Homo sapiens: one gene and its partner. The protein of the gene in region 2 interacts with the protein of the main gene of each other region in a biochemical or structural test. Each region holds a gene or a part of one and is shown on either strand. Other genes may lie near its edges.

What was found. Proteins that work in one complex are often made in the same cells at the same time.
Region 1: the proteins of BAMBI (region 2) and ACVR1 form a complex in vitro, tested with the Homo sapiens proteins (one study listed by BioGRID).

Annotation. Positions count from the first base shown.
Region 1 is NC_000002.12:157,866,331-157,873,369, reverse strand, and holds part of ACVR1 (activin receptor type-1 precursor), read left to right. Parts: intron 1-7,039. UniProt on the Homo sapiens protein: Bone morphogenetic protein (BMP) type I receptor that is involved in a wide variety of biological processes, including bone, heart, cartilage, nervous, and reproductive system development and regulation.
Region 2 is NC_000010.11:28,680,517-28,683,467, reverse strand, and holds the end of BAMBI (BMP and activin membrane-bound inhibitor homolog precursor), read right to left. Parts: intron 2,211-2,951; coding exon 1,923-2,210; intron 1,486-1,922; coding exon 1,067-1,485; 3' UTR 536-1,066; downstream 1-535. UniProt on the Homo sapiens protein: Negatively regulates TGF-beta signaling.

The DNA.
Region 1 (7,039 bases), on a different chromosome or scaffold from region 2:
GCTCAGCTCTTCACAGGTACTTTTTCATGACATTTCCACAAACACCATATGTCTTATTATTATTTTACCGTCCTACAATAAGAAATTGAGGCTTGGCAAATTTCAGTGGTAGAATGGGGATTTGAACCAGAGGTCTGCAGGACTTCAGAACTCATGTTCTTGGCCACTTTTGCCAGTGATTGTCAAAGTTCATTCACTCACATACTGTCTTCCTGAGTTTACCATGGCTGAGTCCCACTTACTCTATTAATATTTTTCTTTAAAGCAATGATTCACTTAAAGAAAAGAACCTAAAGACATCATTTTTTTGAGAGGAAATTATGTATTACTACCATATTTGGAAAGCCAACTCACTTGTTAGGAATAGGAGGTAGTCATAAATATGCGTTTGTACTTGCACCGAAACCCCAACTTCAGAATAATGATTATGTGGAGTGTGTGTATGTTGCAGGGACCTGGAATAAAAATGGAGGAAGTAGGTAGATGATACAGTGTTGGTGATGTTCTGGTTTTTGGATTGGGTGATGGGTTCATAGGTGCTGATTTTATTTTTAGACTTTATAACCTACATACACAATACATTTTTTCTAAAATGATAAAGAAAATTAAACACATAACCATTAACATAATGATTACTTAGGGAATATTTTACTGCACTATGCTGACTATAGATTTAGCTTGGTGCCTTGTTTGCAGTGGGCACACAGTAACTACTGGCTGATCGATAAGACCCCAGGAAATAATTGTAAAGCAAGCTCATTGTTTGTTATATTTGAATAAGGTTGAGGTATGTCCCCCTCCTCCCCTATTTTCTCCTGCTTCTACTCTCCTTTCCAATATTGCAACTAAATAGTGTGGGCTGCAGTGAGGTTTCACCTGGCTGTAGTTATGGGAGACACAGGCTGGGCTGAAGCTAGCACTTTTCAGCATCACCTTGTCTTATATATCTAGCACTTGGGATGGGGCAAAGAATACTGTCATGAAGTGTTAAGACACCTTCCTTTTTACCCAGTAGTAAGGTGTGACCATTCAGAGCTGGAAGCAGTATTTAAGTTAAAGCAGGGCCTGGATGAAATGTTAACAACATTAAACTGGTGAGGCTGGGAAATAAAGCCATCAGAAATTTTAATTGGAATCCGCAGAATCTCCTGTTTTATTTTCCCAAGCAAGCACCGGGCACTGTGGCTTTATTCCTGGAAATGAGGATTTGGAATTGGGTTTCCTGGTACAAAATACCTTCTTTGATCTTTTGGAGTGAAAACTTTGTGTTTCTTTCTGTGGCCAATTCCAGCTCTCAGAAGAACCAAATGGAAGATTTACCTCCTCATTTTTAGCAGTTGGCCATAGAATGCTCTTGCTTGCCATGTTAAGTTTAAGAATCAGAAGTTCTAAACTAGGGTTTGTCTGTTGGAAGGACATTCAAATGAAAGACTCCTTTTGAAAGAGCCTCATCAGTTTGGTGTGGTTGGCACATCACAGCCTTTGGTTCAGATGGGAGGTAGTTTTGCTTGAACTCACACTCTCAAAATTAACTAATAAGATATTCGGCAGCTTCCTTTTCTGAGTTAACACAAATACACCCTCTGCCCCTAATATTCAAACTAACCACACATTCGAATACTATTCCTGTGCGCTTCTAGGCAGTTCTGGAAATGTGAGATTGTTTATATGTATAAAGGCTCTTATGTGATCCATCAGAGCTTTGTTTTCCAGAGCCACGGCTATTCAGTTGTTTGATTTTTGGGTTTCACTCTCTGACCAACATTCCACTTTGCCCATTAGAGTTACTTCATTGTTGACTCTGGGTATTTGGCCTTTATTTCTGTGACTGGGAAAGTAACTTTAAATTTCAGTCTTCCTAAATTTTGTGGAGGTTTGTGCAGTAGGTGAAAGTTGTTTTGAAGAGGGGGATGGGGTGAGACCACTTTTAGCATAAGTGTCCTGAGGGATCACCCAAGGTCAGTTCTCATTCATCTTGAGGCCAAACCCTGGCTGTTCTGGTCTCTGCATTGCCCCTCACTCCCCTCCTTTTTGGGGGACCCAGATTCTTCAAGGCTCAGAGTAATCTTACTGCAAGCAAGAATGCTTTCTGGATTTTGCCATTTTGCCTTTCGACAGTCTCCTAGGTTTTATCATCCCCATTTCTTATTCTGGGATGTGATTGATCTCTTTGAGGGCAAGGACTTCAAGTTGTTCATTCCTCCATTGATTCTTTCTACACAAGTCATTGCTCTTCACCAACTTAAAACCTTTCAAATTCTCTCCCTGGGCTCCTTGAGGCAAGGGACTGTCTTATTCATCTTTTGTGTAACTTTTGCACCTAACACAATGCCTGGCCTAGACCACACAGTCAATAAATTGTTTTTGAATTGCCGAGAGAATGAATGGATGATTGCATATTAAGGGAGCAAAGGGACCTAGTCTTCTAGGGAACCAGGGAGATTGCTGACAAGATGATACCAGTCACTGTGGTCCGTAAGGATGAGTTTGGAAAGTGGGGACGAAAGACATTCTATGTAGAAGGAACTGCTTTTGATACCTCTTCTCAGTGCTTAATGTTGTAACCTGTGCTTAGTCAATTCCACAAACATTTATTGTGTTCTTTTCAGCATATGTTTCTTTCTTTCTTTTTATATTTAAGAGTGATGCTTCCATTTTTGAGAAGAATATCTCACTAATTTTTTATATCCCACAGAGCAGGGAATCCTTCATTATTTATAGTTAGGACCCAGACACTCAGTGAATCAATTACTTTACTCTTGACTTTTTCCTGTTGCATATGTTTCCAAACAGTTGACAGTGAAAACGTAGTGGTGGGCCATGCTTATGTGAGAGGTGGAAAAATGTAGGTGACCTCTTTGGAAAATGGGTGGAATCCAAAGTAAACTCCTCTTTTGAGAGATTTTTAAGGGCTGAAATCAGTGGACATACCACATATAACTTTTCATCTTGAATACTTGATGGGTGTGTGCTTTTGCTCATCTATGAAAGCCAAGATTGGCTATTAATATCACCATGCCATCGAAAAGCAAGATTACTTTGATTTGGGGGATTCCGTTTTAGCCAGTTCTGGAAGAATATTGATAGGCCCTCCAAAATATAACCTTGAACTTTAGAAATGTACAGAGGGGAGAACGAAGGTGGGGTGATCTTGGGCAAAGTTGGATATTAGAAATGGGACGATACTTGAGAGTTTGGAACGTGGGTACTGAGGAAAATGTGCAATAAGAAGAACTTGAGAAAAAGCATTCTGGAATAGAAGGGATGGGTTGAGTGATGTTTTAAACCAAGTTCCGAAACTTCCACTATTGCAGCTATTGATGAGTGTTGGCTACGCTTGGGGTGAAAGTAAGATGTGCTTGATTTACTCTCTGTAAGTAGTGAGTTAATGCATATAAGCAAACATGACCATAAAGGCAGGAGCTTAGGGATGAATATCCCTTGTCTTGATGTCAGGGACTTACACAAGATAGAAATATGCATAGGAGTGAAAGTGTAGGTGGTTATCTAGAGTGACACCTTCCTTTTCAGGAGTAAGGGACACATGTGCCCAGTGCTATTTTTCATACAGTTTTCATATGCTTATCTTGAACTTGAAGAACCCAAGTTGTTGTGAACAATAGGTGGCAAGAACAAATATATTATGAGGATGGCCTAGTAAAAAACAGAAAAGCTCAGTCAGCAGAGATTACTTTATATAAACATAAATGTTCTATTTCAGTATTTTTAAAACATTTTAACACTCAGCAGTACATTTTATATCATGACCTGGTACACACACAAACACATATGCATGTGCACAGGTGTTAAAAATAAAGCTGAATTACAAGTTCTACAAAAATATTATAATGCTTTTTAATTAATATTCAATTTTTATTTTAAAAATTCTAGTCTTTATATACTAAACTGATTTTACAACTTGCTAATGGGTCCTAATAAGCAGTTAGAGAAAAAACTGTTCTAGGTATTGTGGAAATTAGCCTTAGTTTGTTTATTGAATAGTTGCTAGTCTGGATGAGACTTTCGTTTTCTTTTTGTGTGGATTTCTGTCATTCTATAGAAAGTTCTTACCCCTATGCCCCTCTCCCTTGCCAGATTATTTTTTCTGTGTATTGTTTCCAAATCAGATTAAAGTGAGTAATACGTGATTTGGACCAGCTCCAGTGTGCATCATCATCATCATCTTGATCCCCATCAGCATCAAAGGTGGGGCTGATTCATTTAGAATGGTGGCAGGAGCCACTTAACTCCCTGTTTATTTAGATTATACTTGAAGAGGTTGTTGACTTTCAGGAATAAGGGGAAGCTGAGGTTACACACACCCAAAGGATGAGAGGGAGGTGGGGAAGATGACCCCCATATATTGTTCAGAAATAAAAAATGAAAGCATGTGGTTAGTAGGGACAGCTCTTTGCATTCAAAGACACAAGAGCTTAATTGTTGTCATTGTCCTTATCATTAAAATCTTGCTTTCCTCTTCCTTCATCTTTTCCCGTCTTCTTTGTCCCTTATTTATTGAGCATTTATCAAGTCTTCCTCTAGGTAAGGTTGGGCATAGAAAGCTCAGTTATTGTCAAGTTAATATTAAGGTGCACTTGAGTAAGGGAGTGAATAATTATACATGTAACTATTAGTGGCAGAACTCTGAATATCTTGGTCACAAGTTACAGAGGATCAACCAACACCTTTAAGGAGGTGGCTGTTTGGCTGGCCTCTGAAAGAGGTACCAATTGGATGTTATTTTGAGAGGTATCTGTATGTGTATAGGTTGTAGCATAGGCAACATTCCAAAAAGAGAGAATGGGGCAAGTAAATATAAGGGGCTTGTTTTTTATTTAGAGGCCAAGTTATAGAAAAGATAGTTGCAGATTTTTTTTTTTTTTTTGAGATGGAGTCTCGCACTGTCACCTGGGCTGGAGTGCCGTGGCGCGATCTCGGCTCACTGCAACTTCCACCTTGGGTTGAAGCGATTCTCCTGCCTCAGCCTCCCGAGTAGCTGGGATTACAGGCACTCACCACCATGCCCAGCTATTTTTTTTTTTCATTTTTAGTAGAGATGGGGTTTCACCATGTTGGCCAGGCTGGTCTTGAAGTCCTGACCTCGTGATTCACCCACCTCGGCCTCCCAGAGTGCTGGGATTACAGGCGCTAGCCACCGTGCCTGGCAGTTGCACATATTTTTAATCACTAGTCTCAGACTATGTGTCCTGGGATGCAGCTTCTCAGGGTGGCATGCGAGACCTTAGACAACCGAAAGGAACAGCACATTCACAGTTAAAAGTGCTTTGTGATGTGACTTGACTCTGTAGAGCACATCAAGATGAGCACCATAGGAGCAAGCTTAGAAAGGGAGATTTAGAGGCACATTATGGCTTACTTTGAATGACAGGCTGGAAGTTAAGGCATGAAAGCAGGCCTTGGTCTGGCCCCTTTCATTATCTCATTTAATGCTCACTCACACTCCATGAAGTACCTGCTCTAATGCCCATTTTATAGAAGGAGAAACTGAGGCATAGAGAGGTGATATGAATGTCTAAGGTTACACATCTGAACTTTAACTCAGGCTGTAAATTCCCACATCACCATCAGTGCACCAGAGCAGAGGTTGAAAACTGGTGGTCTCTGAGCTCAGTATACCTCAGAGTTCTGTCCTGTTTGATACTGTATTTAAAACATTAAAAAAAAAAAAACATGGTTGCTAACATGTAAAAATGGGGGACATTTTCATAAAAAAAAAATCGAAATGTCCAGCTGCTCCTGCAACACTGAAAACTCTGGCAGCCCCAGGGCCATATTCCTTCCTGCAAGAAACTGCCAGATCTTTTGACCATGTCTGTCTGAGGGAGATGTGTGTGCTGTGGCTGCTACTGTCTCAGTTCATCCTGTTTTCTCCCAGACACTGAGGCTCGGTGTTAGTTGCTGTTTATTGTTCTTGCACTGACAGGTTTGTTTGTTTGTTCCTGTAGGCTAACTGGATTGACCCTATAGGTGTATGAGTTTGAGGCCTTGGCACATAGCCTTCTGTTAGCCAAGGATGATTGGTCTAGTGGAGTGGGATGCCCAGAAGCCAGGAGGAAATGAGAATAGATGGAACTAGGGTTTTAGCCTTGGGCTGGAGAAGCCATAGGGCTTGGTGAATAAATTACTTTTGCAATGAGAGGGAGGGTAGGGGTTGGGCAAACATATGTGACTTTTGGAACCTGGATGACTGGGAGAATGGTGTTGCTCTTAAAAGAAAATGGAAGGTTGCCAAGAGCACCTGGGTTGGAATGGATTGTGGCGTTGGGTTTGAGGTTCTGGGAGAGCAAGAACCCAGAAGAATGCTTACTTGAGCCCTGTGAGAAGCTGGGAAAATGGAACTGAAACTCTGGAGATAGGGTTTGGGGCTTTGGCTTTGTATTGGCTATTGGATTTGTACTGGTGATTGGTGAGAGGATGAGAATGTCCTGGGGGAGAGCTTCCTTTTGGAAATGGGAAGAAGTGGGTTGAGGTCTGAATGATAAAATGAACCAGCTACAAACAGTTCAAAGTCTGTTATTGACTTTTTGGGGTCAAGTGCCATATCTTGCAAATAAATCAAATGTTTATCCGAATAGAGGAGTAAAATAACAGTCTCCAACTTTTGAACATGGGAAACTGATAAAACATCTGCTCATAGAATCAAAGGCAGACATGCTGTTTGATGGGTGACACCTGTATCTTATGTCTGTGCCTATTTCACTGAGCCTTATTAAGGTAAAACTGATTCTAATAGTGACCTTTTCTTGGTATCATAGATGATATAAAATGTGAAAAAGAAGTTGCCGGAGCTCCAAGATGGGGAAAAAAATGCCAGAGGAAAATGCTCTCTGCTTGAGATTTATCCTTGCTTTTAACCAGTTTAGAATGGAATGTCCTTTTCAAATTCAGAGAAGCTTTCCCCCCCGCCTCCCTTGGCTTGTTTGCTTAGGATTCCCTCCAACTTATTGTTTCTTAATCAGCTGTGTCCACCTCAGCTCCTCTCTCTTCTCCTACTTGGTTCCCTTTTGATCCCTAAAAG
Region 2 (2,951 bases):
TAAAGGATCATTTGGGAGGATGAAACCTAGTAGCAGTTATTTAAATCAATTGGTGTATCGTGTTCACTACAGAAAAGCTTTCTAAGTATTAAAAAAAAAAAAAGCATCACACTGTTGAAGCACAAGGTTTAAAATTAAGTGTGTTGTACAGTAAGGTTTGGCTAATTGGGGAGCCAAAATACTTAATTTGGCTTAGGACAAAATAAACTGGCCAATTAATCAACAGTAAAAGGAGACAGTGACTGACTTGAACAAAAAAACAGTTGTTTAGTTGGTTTTTTTTTCTTTTTTGGGTGGAGGTATACACATTGGAAAAGGTATTCCGGAACACCTGGATCAAAATGACCTTTGCTAGGTCAACTCCAGAAATTGATCAATCATATCTGACCTGGTACACATAAATTCCAGATCTCCTTCTTAGATGAAAGCTAAAACCAGAGTTATCCTATAGCCAGAATGTGGGTAAGACACTAAAAGATGGTCAGTATACATTTAGAAACTCCACACTGTAAGAAAATTACACAGGCACATGGAAGAATAAGCAAGATCTTGGTCTTGTTTAAAAAAGAAAAGAGAAAAAAAAAAACCAAGCCACATCCTAGAGTTGAGAACAAATTATTAACAGCAAATGGCCATTTGTATAATTAACATGTACTGTCTCACGTTTCCCAGTTAAATTTATGAAAGACACTATTAAATTTCAGACAAAATATATATATTTCTTTTAAATCTTTACAATAAATCAAGATGTAGAAGCTTACATAGGGCACATTTTTGTTTATTTAGGTACTCAATTCCAGCTCCCTTGGATGCAAATAACCCTGGTGACAGTGTGTACAAAGTCTTCTCTTTGCTTTTTATAATTTTAAAAGCAAATAACACATTTAACTGTATTTAAGTCTGTGCAAATAATCCTTCAGAAGAAATATCCAAGATTCTGTTTGCAGAGGTCATTTTGTCTCTCAAAGATGATTAAATGAGTTTGTCTTCAGATAAAGTGCTCCTGTCCAGCAGAACTCAAAAGGCCTTCAAGCTGTTCAGTAAGTGTAGTTCAGATAAGACTCCGTCATACGAATTCCAGCTTCCCGTGCCCACTGTACATGCCCCAGTGAACAAGCGAGAGGATCTTATCGTTGCTGAGGTCTGCTTGTCTCATTTTATCACAGGTCAGACAGCAGTTCTCGTGCCCACTGACCGGCACCATGCATTCCAAGTCTAACTTTGCAACCTGCCCCTTTTTGGAATGGTGTCCGTGAAAGCTGTAGTGCAAACGGGAGAGCATCTGTTGCCGCTGATCCTGCAGCCTCTTATTTTCACTTCGAAGCATCCTCAGGGCCAACATAATAAGCAACACTAAAATCAGCCCTCCAGCAATGGGCACGGCAATGACCGCTGCCCGGAACCACAACTCTTTGGAAGAAGTCAGCTCCTGCACCTTGGTGATAAGGTTTCTGCTACCATCATGCTGATACCTGTTTCCTTGTCCTAAAGGAGTACAAAGAAAATGATCAAACTCCATGCTAACTCCTCCTAGGGATATTCATAATCATCAATTCATTTTAACCAAGAATTCCATTAAAAAGAAGCTTACAATTAAATCAACGATATTTAGAAAACATTGCAAAACTATCTGAAGAAGCTTACAAACGCATTTGTTTACAGACTGTCATTACTGAGATGTAATGGCCTTTTAATGTCTTCAAAATGTTGAAAAAACAGGCAAAACCTATTATGTAGACAGACATCTAATGCTCAGACATAAAAGCCACTCAATCAAGATGCATCTTTGCATCCAGCCAGGCTTCTCCCTCTGGTGTCTCTAATTACATTAACAACAAAATCAATAGCAGACATACAAAGTCGTGGCTGTCACAAGTCTATAGATCAGGCAGGCATTCTGGTTAGAAACGGCTTCCACCTACCTGAGGCCTCACCCCTGGGAGGAGAGAGAACATCGTGCAGCCCTCTGTAATTGCACATGTCTTCATGACAGCATTCCAATGTGGGTATGGTGGTGCCAGAGTGGTTTCGGGCCTGTTTGGCTTGGCAGATGTCTGTCGTGCTTGCAAGAGAGTCCAGGCAGCCATGGGTGAGTGGGGAATTTGAGTTCTGAGGATCAAGAAGTCTAGAGAAGCAGGCGCTGAGCTCAGATTTACACATATAACCAGTGGCTACACAGTGGGCAGCATCACAGTAGCATCGAATTTCACCTGAAAACAATGAGAAACCACCTCAAACTCTGCTCCAGAGACCAGATAAAGCAACTATTTAGGCAACTGCTAAATCCCAAATTCAAAGGCATGAACTTTTAGATCATCCAAGCTGAGGGCTCCAGTCTACAGAGCCTGGAGAAGCCCTTCCTGCAGCCAGTGCGTAAGTTTCAATCCAGTTAAACGTCATTTTGGCAATGTAGTAATCCCAATAGCAGGTTTCTGAGGAGTTTAGAGTCATTTTAAAAAAACTTTTGCTTTTTGAAGGAAATAGTAATGAGTATAATTTCTCCTACCATAAGGTATAACACATTATTTATTCATTTTAATCCTACATGACCATACAACATAAAAATGTTAGGCTTTTTGATTTTGTCAGTATAAATATTTGATCGGAACTACTGAATTGTTTACTATCCCACAGGACTGCACCAAGAGTTAAGAGCTTTAGCTAACACCTTATAAAGTTATTAACTAGAAACACAACAATCTAGAAACTGCCCAGGTCAGGAGGTTTTAAAACTATGAAACTAGGCAGCTATTTGCAACCTCTCTAGAAAAGGCAAACTTTTTGCCTATAAAGATCTTTTCATGCAGAGGAGCTTTTAGTCAGTATATTGTAAAACAGGAACTAGGCAGTTTACAATTAGTGGTTTGCTTGCCAAAGTCAATTTCTTTCAGCCCAAATGGAAAGTCATAAAAGGTGGGGGGAGTATAAAACTGCAAGGCTAACTTCTCCTC